Homo sapiens: one gene and its partners. The protein of the gene in region 4 purifies or fractionates together with the protein of the main gene of each other region. This does not show direct contact. Each region holds a gene or a part of one and is shown on either strand. Other genes may lie near its edges.

The links. The genes of interacting proteins can lie anywhere in the genome.
Region 1: the proteins of CD1A (region 4) and ECEL1 purify together in Homo sapiens (affinity purification with mass spectrometry; one large-scale study listed by BioGRID and IntAct). This does not show direct contact.
Region 2: the proteins of CD1A (region 4) and TMEM59L purify together in Homo sapiens (affinity purification with mass spectrometry; one large-scale study listed by BioGRID and IntAct). This does not show direct contact.
Region 3: the proteins of CD1A (region 4) and MAN1A2 purify together in Homo sapiens (affinity purification with mass spectrometry; one large-scale study listed by BioGRID and IntAct). This does not show direct contact.

Annotation. Positions count from the first base shown.
Region 1 is NC_000002.12:232,482,068-232,484,834, forward strand, and holds part of ECEL1 (endothelin-converting enzyme-like 1), read right to left. Parts: coding exon 2,734-2,767; intron 2,530-2,733; coding exon 2,405-2,529; intron 2,157-2,404; coding exon 1,934-2,156; intron 1,448-1,933; coding exon 1,349-1,447; intron 1,113-1,348; coding exon 1,038-1,112; intron 888-1,037; coding exon 784-887; intron 542-783; coding exon 483-541; intron 403-482; coding exon 351-402; intron 1-350. UniProt on the Homo sapiens protein: May contribute to the degradation of peptide hormones and be involved in the inactivation of neuronal peptides.
Region 2 is NC_000019.10:18,615,870-18,618,717, forward strand, and holds part of TMEM59L (transmembrane protein 59-like precursor), read left to right. Parts: intron 1-105; coding exon 106-258; intron 259-1,130; coding exon 1,131-1,233; intron 1,234-2,285; coding exon 2,286-2,403; intron 2,404-2,505; coding exon 2,506-2,623; intron 2,624-2,848. UniProt on the Homo sapiens protein: Modulates the O-glycosylation and complex N-glycosylation steps occurring during the Golgi maturation of APP. Inhibits APP transport to the cell surface and further shedding.
Region 3 is NC_000001.11:117,401,949-117,405,461, forward strand, and holds part of MAN1A2 (mannosyl-oligosaccharide 1,2-alpha-mannosidase IB), read left to right. Parts: intron 1-237; coding exon 238-493; intron 494-3,513. UniProt on the Homo sapiens protein: Involved in the maturation of Asn-linked oligosaccharides. Progressively trim alpha-1,2-linked mannose residues from Man(9)GlcNAc(2) to produce Man(5)GlcNAc(2).
Region 4 is NC_000001.11:158,252,791-158,257,558, reverse strand, and holds the start of CD1A (T-cell surface glycoprotein CD1a isoform 1 precursor), read right to left. Parts: upstream 3,136-4,768; 5' UTR 2,890-3,135; coding exon 2,832-2,889; intron 2,476-2,831; coding exon 2,209-2,475; intron 1,556-2,208; coding exon 1,277-1,555; intron 774-1,276; coding exon 495-773; intron 139-494; coding exon 48-138; intron 1-47. UniProt on the Homo sapiens protein: Antigen-presenting protein that binds self and non-self lipid and glycolipid antigens and presents them to T-cell receptors on natural killer T-cells.

The sequences.
Region 1 (2,767 bases), on a different chromosome or scaffold from region 4:
CAGAGCTGGCTGGGCAGTGAAACAGGGCTGGAGGAGACAGGAGGGAAACGGAGGCACCTACGTAGGGGTTTCTCCTCCTACCTCATCATTAGTGTTGCGCCACCTTTGAAACATCAAAATGAGCCTCAAACAAGTAAAGAAGACCCCAGGAAGTTACAAATAACAAACCTACACATTTTTCTAAATAACCAAGGATGTAGTGGGGAGCCAGGGTCCACAGCTGTCCTGACTCCTGAACCCAGCTGGGTCTGGGGCGATTGGAGCCACAGTACGCCGACACACACCTGGTAGACAAGGTCTGCAATGCCAGCCCTGCCCTCAGCCACAAACAGGGCAAGCTATGTACTCACTGTGGGAAGTCAGGGTCGTACAGGGTGGGCTGCAGGATGCCCGCGGGGAACACTACAAGAAGGGGGTGCTCAGTGGGAAACCCATCCACTTTCGGACCCTGCCCCGCCCGGCGTAGGGACACATCCCCTTACCCATCTGGTTCTTGTTGGGTAGATAGTAGGCATTGAGCGCCTGTGGGGGGAGCAGCCACCTGTGGAGGGATGCTGGGGTGAATGGGGGGAACACACTCCCTCCCCCGCTACCCTCACATCACAGCTTCCTCGTCAGCCATCTCCTGACAGTCTGGGGGTCACCCTGCCGGCCCCCACCCCATGCCCTGTGCTGGCGTGTGTGCCCCCCATATCTGCATGGCTGTGAGACGATTTGCCCTACCAGCTCCTGCCCTTTCCCCACAACCCTTCCCTGACCCCCAGCTCTGGGCCAGGCACCCACGTGGACTTGTCCACCTCCTGCCGAATCTTCTTAACTGAGAGCTGGATGCTGAAGCGGATGCTGTTCAAGATGTTCTTGAAGTAGGTCTTCTCATGGACCTCAAACTGCAGGAGGCACGGGCGACACTCAGCGGCAGGCCAGGGCAGGGCTACCTGCAGACTGGGCAACAACCTGGCCGTGCAGGCCACCTGCCCTCCTGAGTGCCGTTAGTAGAGGGGCTGTGGACAGGCTGGGCAGGCAGGGTCAGGGCCCACCTCATACTCCTTGTCCACAGCATCGGGTTTCAGCAGGAAGTCCGGGTAGCCGACCATCACCATCATGTACTGGAGCTGCGGGCCGAGGGCAGGTGAAGGTGGCACCAGGCCTCGGGAGACAGCCCCCCGCCCCCCACCCTACCCACCAAGGAAGGGAGCACTAGGCCAGCCTGGGAGTGGGCTTCACAGTGGGGGAGGCAGGCCTGGTCAACTCCACGAAGGCCTCTTTGTCCCTTTTGTTCTCTTTCGCTGGTACACAGTAGGTGCTCAATATATATGGGACCAACCAATGACACTGGGTCCCCCCTCACCTTGGCCCGAGCAGCAGCCCTGGTCTCGGCGTCCATCCAGTCCAGCTCCTCCAGGCGCTGGCCCAGGATGTACTTGATGTCTTCCACTAGCTGCTGCACCTGCAGGGTCAGGGGTCAGGGAGCAAGGGTCAACCCAGCAGCCTGGTCTATCACTCCTGGCAGGAGGGGTACCCCTGCCTTTAAGCACCACTTTCTAAGCCCAAACCTCATTTCTGAACACCAAGAGGATACTTTGGAGGTGAGGATCCAGGCCCTGCACCCCCGAGGGCTCACAAGATAGAGGAGGAAACTGCCCCAGCAATGACCACAGACATCCCTAAGGCCACGCCTCCCGAGCATGCCTGAGAAGGTGGGCTGGGGCCTGGCAGGGAGGTCTGCCTGCAGTTGATAGTCCACATAAGCTTCCTGGAGGAGGAGGCCTGTGGAGGAGCAGCCTGGGGCCTCAGAATCGGCTGAGTACTTAGCAGGGCCTGGTCCCCCTGCCTGCAGGGGACATGTGGGGCTCCCCATATTAGGACCATGGCCTCGGGAGGGCTCCACCCTCAGTTCAGCACCATCCTCCTCTCTCAAACAAGGGCAACCCACCTTGGCTTTGCTGGCAGCTGAGAAGTGCTCATGTACAAAGAGGGCGCCAAGCGCCATGCCAAAGTGGCGATTGGCCTGGCCCAAGCAGACCCGGGCCAGCTCCTGTGGCTTGTCGCTGCCCTCCATCTCCTGTGCCAGCTCGTGCAGTGCCTCACGGAATGGCGGGGACAGGTGTTCACTCAGGACCACCACCACGCGCCACACCAGGTAGTTGTGCAGGACCCTGGGGACCAGGTGAAGCCAGTGGGTGTCCAGACGGACATGCATGTGGGCCACCAAGGGCACCACCCCTACCTGTGCCCGCCAACCTGTGGCTGGACCCAGGACCCAGACAGCCCCACAAAGAAGGGACAGGGGGTCATCCCAGCTATGCAGAGCAGAAAATGTAAAGCCCACCCAGCAGAGAGGTCCAGGGTGCAGGGGAAGGACCTAGTGACCGCTGGGCAGAAAATGCCAGATCTGCAGCCATACCGGTGGGGTGTGGAGCGGATGAGCTGCGACACCTGCTGCATGTAGTCTGTCGCCAGCAGCACCACCTCCTCTTCCTCTGAGAAGTCCTCCTGGAAGATCTGGTCTAGCAGCCACTTCCACCGCAACTGTGAGACCAAGGACAGGGACAGTGAGGCTAGGGTTGGCAGGGGCCACAGAAGACAGGGAGGGGGCAGAGAGAGGCAGCGAGGGGACATGAGAGTCCATGGCCAAGGAACGGTTTGCCCATCTCTGGGGAGAGATGACCCTGTAGTCCCAGCAGCAGCATTGCCCTCAACCCTGCCTGCCCACGAGGACTGGGCCACACTCACGTGGGGGGTGATCTTCTGCAGCTGCCCCAGCGTC
Region 2 (2,848 bases), on a different chromosome or scaffold from region 4:
AGTGTTGGGATTACAGGCGTGAGCCACCACATCCTGCCCCCTCCCATTCATTGGTTAATGCCCTATTTCGGTGCCATCTTTGTGTCTTGGACCTTTTTTCACCAGAGAAAGGTCCTGGAGGCTCCAAGTGGGGCCCTCTCCCTCTTGGACTTGTTTTCCACCCTCTGCAATGACCTTGTCAACTCAGCCCAGGGATTTGTCTCCTCCACCTGGACATACTACTTGCAGACTGACAATGGGAAAGTGGTGGTGTTTCAGGTGAGACCTCTGACAGGGGCCACGCCAGAGTGGCAGATGGGTGGGCAGGGTAAGAAGATGGGATGCATTGGCTCTTAGCTCATGAGATGCAAAGTCCACAGTGGGCGAGCTTCAGGCACAGCTGGATCCAGGGGCTCAGTGTCTCACTCCATGCCTTGACTCTGCTTTCTTTTGTGGTGGCTTCATTCCCAGGCATTTACTTCTTCTTGGCAGTAAGGTGGATGCCAGAGGCTCTAGGTTACAAACGCTGTGGTTTTTTTTTGTTGTTGTTGTTGTTGTTTTGAGATGGACTCCCATTCTTGTTGCCCAAGATGGAGTGCAATGGCATGATCTTAGCTCACTGCAACCTCCACCTCCCAGGTTCAAGTGATTCTCCTGCTTCAGCCTCCTGAGTAGCTGGGATTACAGGCGGCCACCACCACACCCACCTAATTTTTGTATTTTTAGTGGAGACGGGGTTTCGCCATGTTGGCCAGGCTGGTCTCGAACTCCTGACCTCAGGTGTTTCACCTGCCTCGGCCTCCCAAAGTGCTGGGATTACAGGCATGAGCCACTGCCCCGGCTCCCTCTGGGGTTTTAACTGAGCTGGGATTTACTCTGATTGGCCCTGGCTGGATCATATGACCATCTCTCAGGCAATTCACTGGCTTGGTCTGGATCATGTTCCTACTTCTGGAGCTAAAGGATGGGGTTAAGGCAAATGGAGGAGCCCATGAAAGCAGAAAACAACATCCCTGACATCAAGCCCACCCCTGATACCCAGGGGAACTGGGTATCAGCTGGGCGTGGGACATGGCAGTCACAGAGGGCCTGCCTGGGCCCAGGGGTGCTGTTCTCACAAGCCTCTCTGTGCTGTCTTGTTCCTGGCCCAGACTCAGCCCATAGTGGAGAGCCTCGGCTTCCAGGGGGGCCGTCTGCAGCGCGTGGAGGTGACCTGGCGAGGCTCCCACCCTGAAGCCCTGGAGGTGCACGTGGGTAAGGTGCAACCTAGACCAGTGTTCCTTCCATGGGTGGCCCCACTGCCACAAGGAGTCGGCCTGGCAAACAGACCTTCTAGGATCGGGATCTCCATCTCTCAAGTCCTGGGTTCCATGGCTCATCCCCCAGGTCTCCATGGTCTATTTCCCAGGGTTCCATGGTCCACCTCCCAGGGTTCCATGGTCCACTTCTCAGGGTTCCGTGGTCTACTTCCCAGGGTTCCGTGGTCCATCTCCCCGGGTTCCATGGTCTATTTACCAGGGATCCGTGGTCCACCTCTCAGGGTTCCGTGGCCCACCTCCCGGGTTCCGTGGCCACCTCCCAGGGTTCCGTGTTCCGCCTCCCAGCGTTCTGTGGTCCACCTCCCAGGGATCCATGGTTCACTTTCCAGGGTTCTGTGGCCCATCTCCCTGGGTTCTGTGGCCCATCTCCCAGGGTTCCATGGTTCATCTCTCAGAGTTCCATGGGTTCATCTCCTAGGGTCATCTCCTAGGGTCCATCTCCAAGGGTTCTTTGGTCCATCTCTCAGGGTTCCATGGTTCATCTCTTAGGATTCTGCAGTTCATCTCCCAGGGTTCTGTGGCCCATCCCCCAGGGTTCTGCAGTCCATCTCCCAGGGTTCCATGGTCCATTTCCCAGGGTTCCATGTTCCATCTCCCAGGGTTCCATGTTCCATCTCCCAGGGTTCCATGGGTTCATCTCCTAAGGGTCATCTCCTAGGATCCATCTCCCAGGGTTCCATGGGTTCATCTTCTAGGGTCATCTCCTAGGGTCCATCTCCTAGAGTTCTTTGGTCTATCTCTCAGGGTTCCATGGTTCATCTCCTAGGATTCTGCAGTTCACCCCCAGGGTTGCATGGTTCATCTCCTAGGATCCATCTCCCAGGGTTCCATGGTCCCTGTCTCAGCATTCTGTGGTCCATCTCCCAGGGCTCTGATCTCCATTCCAGGACTCTATGCCCCAGGTCCTGACCTCCTCCCTCCTGGTCATGGTTATTGTGGCCTCTTAGCAAAGACCTGGTGGTCGCTGAGTGGCAGCTGATCTCTCAGACCCTGTAGGCCCCCTGGACAAGGTGAGGAAGGCCAAGATCCGAGTCAAGACCAGCAGCAAGGCCAAGGTGGAGTCTGAAGAGCCACAGGACAATGACTTCCTCAGTTGCATGTCCCGGTGGGTGGCAGGACCTTGGGGGTGGGAGGGGGGTGGGACTGGAGGTACGGGTCTCCCTGGTCCCGGCCTGGGCAGCTGAGTGGTGCCTGCCGGGCGGGGCAGGCGCTCGGGTCTGCCTCGCTGGATCCTGGCCTGCTGCCTCTTCCTCTCCGTGCTGGTGATGCTGTGGCTGAGCTGCTCCACCCTGGTGACCGCGCCTGGCCAGCACCTCAAGTTCCAGGTGGGTGGGATCTGTGAATGGCGCTGGGCCGAGGGAGGGGGTGAAGGCAGAGAGAGCTGTTTGCTGGTCCTGGATTTGGCCACCTGCTCCCATGGAGGCCAGGACCTCAGACATTTTTTTCTTTTTTCATGTATATACATATATATACATATACGTGTGTGTGTGTGTGTGTGTGTGTGTGTATATATATATATATAATATATATATATATATTTTTTTTGAGAT
Region 3 (3,513 bases), about 41 Mb from region 4:
TCTTAGTCTGGAAATTGTATAAAGAGATTATAAACAGAGTTTGATCTTAGGCATCCAGGGTTCCTTTTCTTTCTCATTCCAGATCTGAATGTGTCTCACTGATAATTCTTTCCTTTTAATGGCAAAAGTAGAAAACAAGTTCCTGGGTTTAATGGAGAAACCTTTATGTTTTATATTTAAAGGTTGACATTCTTAAGTAGGCTCACTGTTACGTTTTATTTCCTTCTTTTCTCACAGGGAAGAGGAAGAACGTCTGAGAAATAAAATTCGAGCTGATCATGAGAAGGCCTTGGAAGAAGCAAAAGAAAAATTAAGAAAGTCAAGAGAGGAAATTCGAGCAGAAATTCAGACAGAGAAAAATAAGGTAGTCCAAGAAATGAAGATAAAAGAGAACAAGCCACTGCCACCAGTCCCTATTCCCAACCTTGTAGGAATACGTGGTGGAGACCCAGAAGATAATGACATAAGAGAGAAAAGGGAAAAAATTAAAGAGGTAATAAGCTGAGTTTTGTGATATGGAGTGTTTATGGATTTGTATTTGGATACAAACAAATATATATAATCTATGGTATCCTGTTTTGATCTGTTTATTCTTGGGTCATAGTTGTAGTATAGTTTCCAGGTTGGTAATAAGGACTAGAACTCTTTCTTGTTTTTTTTTTTAATGTTAATTATAATGTAATTATTGGACACTTAAAATATTTTTGATACAACTTTTGGATGGTTAGTGCCACTCATTCTTTGTTCAGAGATCTTTTGAAATTCAGCGTTTTATTAATAATATATCTGTATATAACTTATTGTCTAAGCAGTTTCTTAAATGTTCAGTTACAAAGGGACTCTGCTAGATACTATGCAGATCACCTCATAAACATGCTTCTAAAGAGCTAGCATTATATCTCCAATTTTTTAAGGAACATGTCATGGTATCCCTCAACTATACTGTAGATTAAGAACACATTCCTTCCAAAAAGTCTCCATGGATTGAAAAATGGGAAAGAATTGATTTCAAAATTCTTTAAATTTATTTAGCCTCAGAAGTCTTTCAATTTGTTATTCTGTAGTTACTTAAAAGTAAAGAGAATACCAGATGGGAAAAATCTAGTGAATATTTGGGTTAAACTTTGTTAATTAGAACTCCTAAAAATTCTGGGTGGAGTTTGTGATTATACTGCCTGTGAAGAAAAATATTTTATCAGAGTGTAATTGTACCAACAATATTTCAGAAGGTTTAATTATTATAAAGTAAGATAAATTTAGTTCAAGTAATCAAATATCTATTTGGATATATTCTAGTAATGGATATGGAAGGTATAGCAGATACTTTAAGCTTAGCCTTATGAATTATTATAAAACCTTGACCTTGATGGAGTAGAAATAGAGCTGTGCTCTGATTTTACCTCACCTCTAGAGTCTGTTTTATATGTAGACTACTTAAGGCACTTCCTTCGGACAGTGTTGGGAGAGACAGTGATAGATTTTTTTTCAGATGCCTGACTTGCTTTTTTTCAGATGTCATTACAATGTACTGAAATACTTTTTTCAAATACGTAATAATTCAGATAGATAACCATGTGTGTTCAGGGGACCCCCAGATGATCCTCAGGTTCAGTGACTCACCAGAAGTACCCACGGAACTCAGCATATAGAAACATGTTTTAGTTTGCTGAACTTTTATCCTGTTATTTTACTGAAGTTATTTATTCTTATAGCTTTTTTGTAGATTGCTTGTGATTTTTCTTATACGTAGTCATGTCTTCTGTGAAGAGATACTTTTACTTTTTCCTTCTTGATTTTTATACCTTTTATATTTTTTTTCTTGTCGTACTGCAGTGGCTAGGAGTTCTAATACATTGTTCAAAGTAAGTGGCGAGAATGGACATACTAGGTTTGTTCCCAACTTTAGGGGTTAAGCATCCAGTCTTTTGCCATTAACTATGTTGTGTCAACTGTAGGTTTTTTAAAGATGCTGTTTATTAGGTTGAGGATGTCTCCTTGTAATTGTAGTTTACTGAGAGTTTTATCATGAATGAGTGTTGAATTTTGTCAGATGCATTGTCTTCATTTTTCTCTAGATGACTGTATGATTTTTTTTCCTTTATTCTGTTAACATGGTAAATTACATTGTTTTTTGGATGTTAAATTAGTCTTATATTCCTGGGTTAAACTCCACTTTGTCGTGGTATGGTATCTGTCTTAGATGTTGCTAATTTTTCTTAAGGAATTTTGCATCTGTGTTCTTGAGATACATTGGTCTTGAGTTTTCTTGTAATATCTTTGCTTGATTTTGGTGTCTGATTAATGCTGGCTGCATAAAGCAAGTTGGGAAATGTTTAATGAATAGTATGCTGTTAAATGAATAGATTTTTGGTCTACTATTATATAATTCGTCTGATATATAATTAAATACTCTGCTATTGTATAACTCAGAACTCCTTGGGTTGTAAGACACTCAGCTCAAACTAAGTGATACAAATAGTATTTATTGGTTTAATGGCTCTAAACAAGGGCTTCAAGTTTGGCTGAATCCAAGCCTGTAGATATTATTGTGAGTGTTAAGCATCTGTCTCTCTTTCCTTTTGCTAGTTTCTCCATGCTGGCAGAGAGCCATTATCAGCTCCAGGATTATATATTACATAGACCATCAGATTGCAGAATAAAAAAGCCCTCTATCTCATGGTGTCAATAACAATATGTGTAAAAAGAACTTGATTGTTCCTACCTGAATCACATGTATCCACTCACTTTGTTTAGGGCAGGGGTTGACAGCTGCAACCTGTGGGCCAAATTCTGCTTGCTGTCTGTTTTTTAAAAATAAATTTTAGGCTGGGCATGGTGGCTCACACCTGTAATCCCAGCACTTTGGGAGGCCAAAGTGGGCGGATCATGAGGTCAGGAGATCAAGACCATTCTGGCTGACACGGTGAAACCCTGTCTCTACTAAAAATAACAAAAAATTAGCCAGGTGTGGTGGTGGGCACCTCTAGTCCCAGGAGGCTGAGGCAGGAGAATGGTGTGAACCCGGGAGGTGGAGCTTGCAGTGAGCTGAGCTGGTGTCACTGCATTCCAGCCTGGGTGACAGAGCGAGACTCCATCTCAAACAAAAAAAATAAATAAAATAAATTTTAATTTGAACACAACCATGTCCATTTACTTAGATATTATCTGGGACTGCTTTTATGCTGTAACAGCAGAGTTAGTTTGTTGATCTCTGGTCTAAGGATAGGGGATTTTCTAGCTAGGGTGAGTTAATTGGTGGTAGAAGCAGAGCCTCTTGATTGACAGCTCTGTTATATGTGAGGAAAGGAGAGCTGTCCCCAAAAAGACTTAACATTTCTCAAAAGGAAAGAATGCCAAACAAATATGTACCTCCTGAAGAAAGAAGACTTTTCTATTATGCCCATTTTTTTCCTGTCATATAGATGAGATTAAACATAGTTATGTATGTTTTCATACTGATACAAATGCTAATTGAATAATGTACTAATATAGATCTGGAAGAATGGGCAAGGA
Region 4 (4,768 bases):
AGTGGGGTAGAGGCTAAGAGTAGGAAAGACACATGCAAAGAACTCACCAGCGTTTCCTGAACCAAAGCGCAAGACCTATCAGAAGAAGTAAAGGCACTATCACCGCCAAGATGATGAAGCCCACGGAACTGTGATGCTCTGTGAATTTGGGGAGACACCAAGGATGTTATAATCCATCCCATTTTACCTCATCCACTCCCTATTTCACTGCATTCCCTGGGCTTCTTTTTTTCATTTGAGTATCCAACTTACCAATCTCCTTTTTTTCTATGTTTTTCTCTCATCCCTGCTCAGAGATGGATTCTTCAGTTAACCCTCAGCATCCTCCTGCATCTACAGGGCCCTCATTTTCAACATTTCCATTTCTTAGATTATCTATTTTTATTCATGTTTGGGCTATAATCCCTAAAATCCTAAAATTTTCAGCTTGCCCTCCCTCTATGCCTGAGGTCCACTTCCTGGCATTTCCAGCCTGGGCCTTAGCTTTTTCTCACCCCAGTAGAGGACGATGTCCTGGCCCTCTAGACTGCTGTGCTTCACCCGACAGGACAGGTCAGCTGCCTCCCCAGCGGCCACCTCCAGGGTTGCGCGGAGATACCATGTCCCATCAGCACTGGGCAAGATGTCCCCTCGCTGAGTGCCCTGCTGCTCCTGCTCACCCCGCATCCACATCACCCACACGGGCTTTGGGTAGAATCCTGAGACATGGCACACAAGCTGCAGATGGCCAGGGCCAGGACTGGGGCCATGGGACAGCCAGGCCTCGGGCTTCACTGCAAAGGACAGAAAAGATATTCAAATACAGACTTGGAGTTTCATATCTCCACAACAGTTTAGAAGTTTAGATAGACACATTGTTCCCATTTCTCTTTTTTTTTTTTTTGAGACAGGGTCTCACTCTGTCACTATGCTGCAATGCAGTGGCATAATTATAAATTATAGCTCACTGTAACCTCAAACTGTTAGGCTCAAGCGATCCTCCTGCCTCAGCCTCTTAAGTAACTGGGACTACAGGTGTGTACCACCATGACTGGCTAACTTATTTTTATTTTTTAGAGACACTGGTCTCACTCTGTTGCTCAGGCTGGTCTGGGACTCCTGCCCTTAAGAAGTCCTCCAGCCTCAGCTTCCCAAAGTACTGGGATTACAGATGTGAGGCACTGCACCCAGCCTTTCCCACTTCTGGGTGGCTCTTCCTTATTCTAAATTGGAAGGAGGTGGTGGAAGGGTATGATTTTCAAATCAAAACTTCTTGGAGGGAGAGTGCAGGACTGACCTTGCCGCTGGAGATGTGCCTTTCCTGCATCAAGAAGACCCAAGATGAAACGTGGGCAGGTGTCACTGAGAAGATTGTGTGTTATGTCATTTTCATGCTGATTCTGATTGAGCACTTTGCAGAAATGCTTGGCCATATTCCCAGCCACTGGATATGGCAACCATGAATTGTTCTGGAAGCTCACAAAGTCTGATCCTTGATAAGCTAACTGCAAGAAGCTTCCTGAGACCTTTCCAGAGTGCAGCTCACAGCCTCCTGTCACCTGTATCTCAAAAGGATCTGGGGTTATGAAATAGAGGAAAGAGGGAGAAAAAAATATAAAATGAAATGAGTAGAAGCAAAGATTATAGAAGCAGAAGGGGGAAGTGTGCAGGGTTTGACATAATGGAATAAAATTTGGTTTGGTCAGGGATTCAGAGAAAGAGGAATTGGTGGGAGCTGTAGGTGGAGGAAAAGATTAATAACATGAGGAAGAGGGCAAACTGGTCAAAGAAGGTGATGTGAATGCTGTGGGTGAGCAAGGACCTGGTGTAAGAGAACTGGGATTATAACAACTTAGGTTGAATTAAATGCAATGGGTTACAATTGAGTATATATAGAGAGACTGCTGAAGAGAATGAATGAGAAAGTGAGAAAGCTGAAGGTATCTGGTTGTAGGGCAGGCAGAAGGGTGGTCCTGGGATACCTGTAAGAAAAGATAATAATGCACAACCCTGCAATCAATGAGAGAGGAGTTCATAAGTAGCAGAAGTGTTTGGAGAATTAAGGTCTGGATGATAGCCCTTGCCCAAAAGTATGCAATTGCAGTTTTATGGTGGAAAGAATAGAATAAGATACAGAAGAGAGTCAGGCTGTTTCCTAAAGGAATAAGAAACATTGAGACAACCCCTCTCTCCCACCTCACCACTCTCCATGGAGAAAACTGAACTCACATTCAAACTGCAATTCATGGGCGTATCTACGAATTCCCTCAAATGACCGAATGGTGCGTATACGGAATAATGTTTCCAGTTCCTTCCACTCCTCATTGCTGAAGTTTCCCCTGGACCAGGGGCACAGGAAAACGATGGTGCTGGAATTGCTGTCCCAGGTATGAGTCTGCAAATCACTCAGCCAACCTGAGACCAGATTTTGTTTCCAGGAATGGTTGTAAAAGGATGCGATCCAGGTGACATGGAAGGAGAGAGGCTCCTTGAGCCCTGCGACAAAAGAACAGATAGAATGGGGAGAAAGACATTGAGAAAGAGGATGGAGAGAGAAAGGTGCCAGAGTGCGGGAACTCAGAATCTGGAGAAAAGGGGATCCATCATGATCTTAGCAGACATTCACTTGCCACACAGTCCCATGCCTTATCAACCACCTTCATAAGAGCTCAGGGACCTGGAGTCATGGATAGTCAGAATGGAACCAGCCTGGCACTCTCACTTTCCAGGTATATGCTAGGGAAACCACACACACACACACACACACACACACACACACACACACACACACACAGAGAGAGAGAGAGAGACCTTCACCCACCACCCAACTGGGCAGTTGTCAGAGTTCTTACCGTCTGCATTGCCATCACCTGGGAGAACAGCTAACAATGGAAGTAGCAAAAACAGCATATCATTTGCAGATGTTATTTCCTTCTCTCAGAAAAATTGGTCTTTGATTTCTGTTCCAAACAAACCTACCCCACGATATCTCTATTCTGACTTCTTTCTGCAGCCAACAGACAAACCTCCCCTGACTGCAACAAAGAAAATCCACTCCTTCAAAAACCCTGAGATGCCTACTCAGTCTCTCATTTCCCTCTGGTTCTGACTCTCCTCTCTGTTCCAGCTTCTCTCCTTGTCACCAACCTCCAACTTATTCACCTTCCCCTAATTCAACTGCTATGGAACAAGTCTGATGTGGCATTGAAAAGCCACTTAACCACTAAGGACATTTTTTTCTCAATCATACAATAAGAGCATAAAGTGAAATGGCTCCCAGTGTGCTGCCCAATGCTCCCATGTCCCTGCTCTTTTTGATCACTCTGTCCTTTTCAATATTTTCCCATGTATTCTCTTCCCCTGTCTCTTCAGCCCCTTACTACATTCACATTTCTGATTTAACATTGATTTATTTGCTTTTTCAGAGTCTCCTACGACTGCCCTGTGCGACAGTACAAACTAACACCTTTTCTCCATTATTCTTAGAGAAGAGCCAGTAACCATCACAAAAAAAAAAAAAAAAAAAAAAAAAAAAAAAAAAAAAAAAACCACAGGAACACTAAAACATATAAAGAAAATTTCCTCTGTTTGATTTTCATTGATATACATTCACTCACCCAACAGTCTCTCTTAGCACCTGCCTGGAGTCAAGCATCTTGGTACACTTAAGAATATGCAGTGGTTGACAACACAATCACTTTACTGAAGGAGCTTTTTCTCTACTTAGGGAGAAAAACACGCCATGAAATATAAATCTTGGTGTACTGAGTTTTATTATACTGTATACACTCTCTGGATAAAAACAAGGCCTGCTTGAAATAATATTTTCTAAAATGGGGGCTCCTAACTAATGTACGCCAGCCCAGAATTTTGACTTCAATGTTTGACTTGGAGTGTTAGTTCCATACAGTTATCATACTGTATCCCCACCTAACAGAGTATCTCACAAGTGGTAGGTGCTTAGTGAATATTTGTCAAATGAATGAATGAATTCAGTCTATGCATCCATTTTTTAATTATGGAGGTGATATTCAACATGAAACTTTTTAAAGATATCATAAAAGTTACTTGTAACCCTATGTAGTGAGATGAGAATCTCATACAGTTTTATTTAGGATAAAAGTACAAGTTACTGGCATGAGATTTACATAAAAGATCCTGCTATAAATGTCCTATTACTTATAAGAAACTAGTCAGAACTTGTGAGCAGTGAAGTTAATGGAGTATTCCAAAGTCTTTATCCCAGGATCCCTTTTTATTAGTCCTATTTGGATGTTTCAGGGTTGTTTTGTTATAAATGAGTCTTTGCCGGACACATTTACATTCCTCTTTTACGCTGCTTGTAACTGTTGAAGGGCTTCTAAATATATGTTTGTGCTTTGTAGATATCATCCATATAAATGTGTCTGGGCTATTTACTATTTTTTGGTTTTCAAAAAAAAAGTATCTGAAGCTAATTTAGGGGGAAAAAATTTTTTTTCTTGAGACAGGGTTTCACTCTGTTACTCAGGCTGGAGTGCAGTGGAATAATCATAGCTCACTGTAACCTCCAACTCCCGGCCTCAAGCAATCCTCCTGTGTCAGCCTCCCAAAGTGCTGGGATTGTTGGCATGAGCCACCAGGCATGGCCTGCAAATAATTTTTTTATTTGTTTTTTGTTTTGTTTTGTTTTGTTTTGTTTTGAGACAGAGTCTCACTCTGTCACCCAGGCTGGAGTTCAGTGGCATGATCTCAGCTCACTGCAACCTCTGCCTCCCAGGTTAAAGCAATTGTCCTGCCTCGGTTTTGC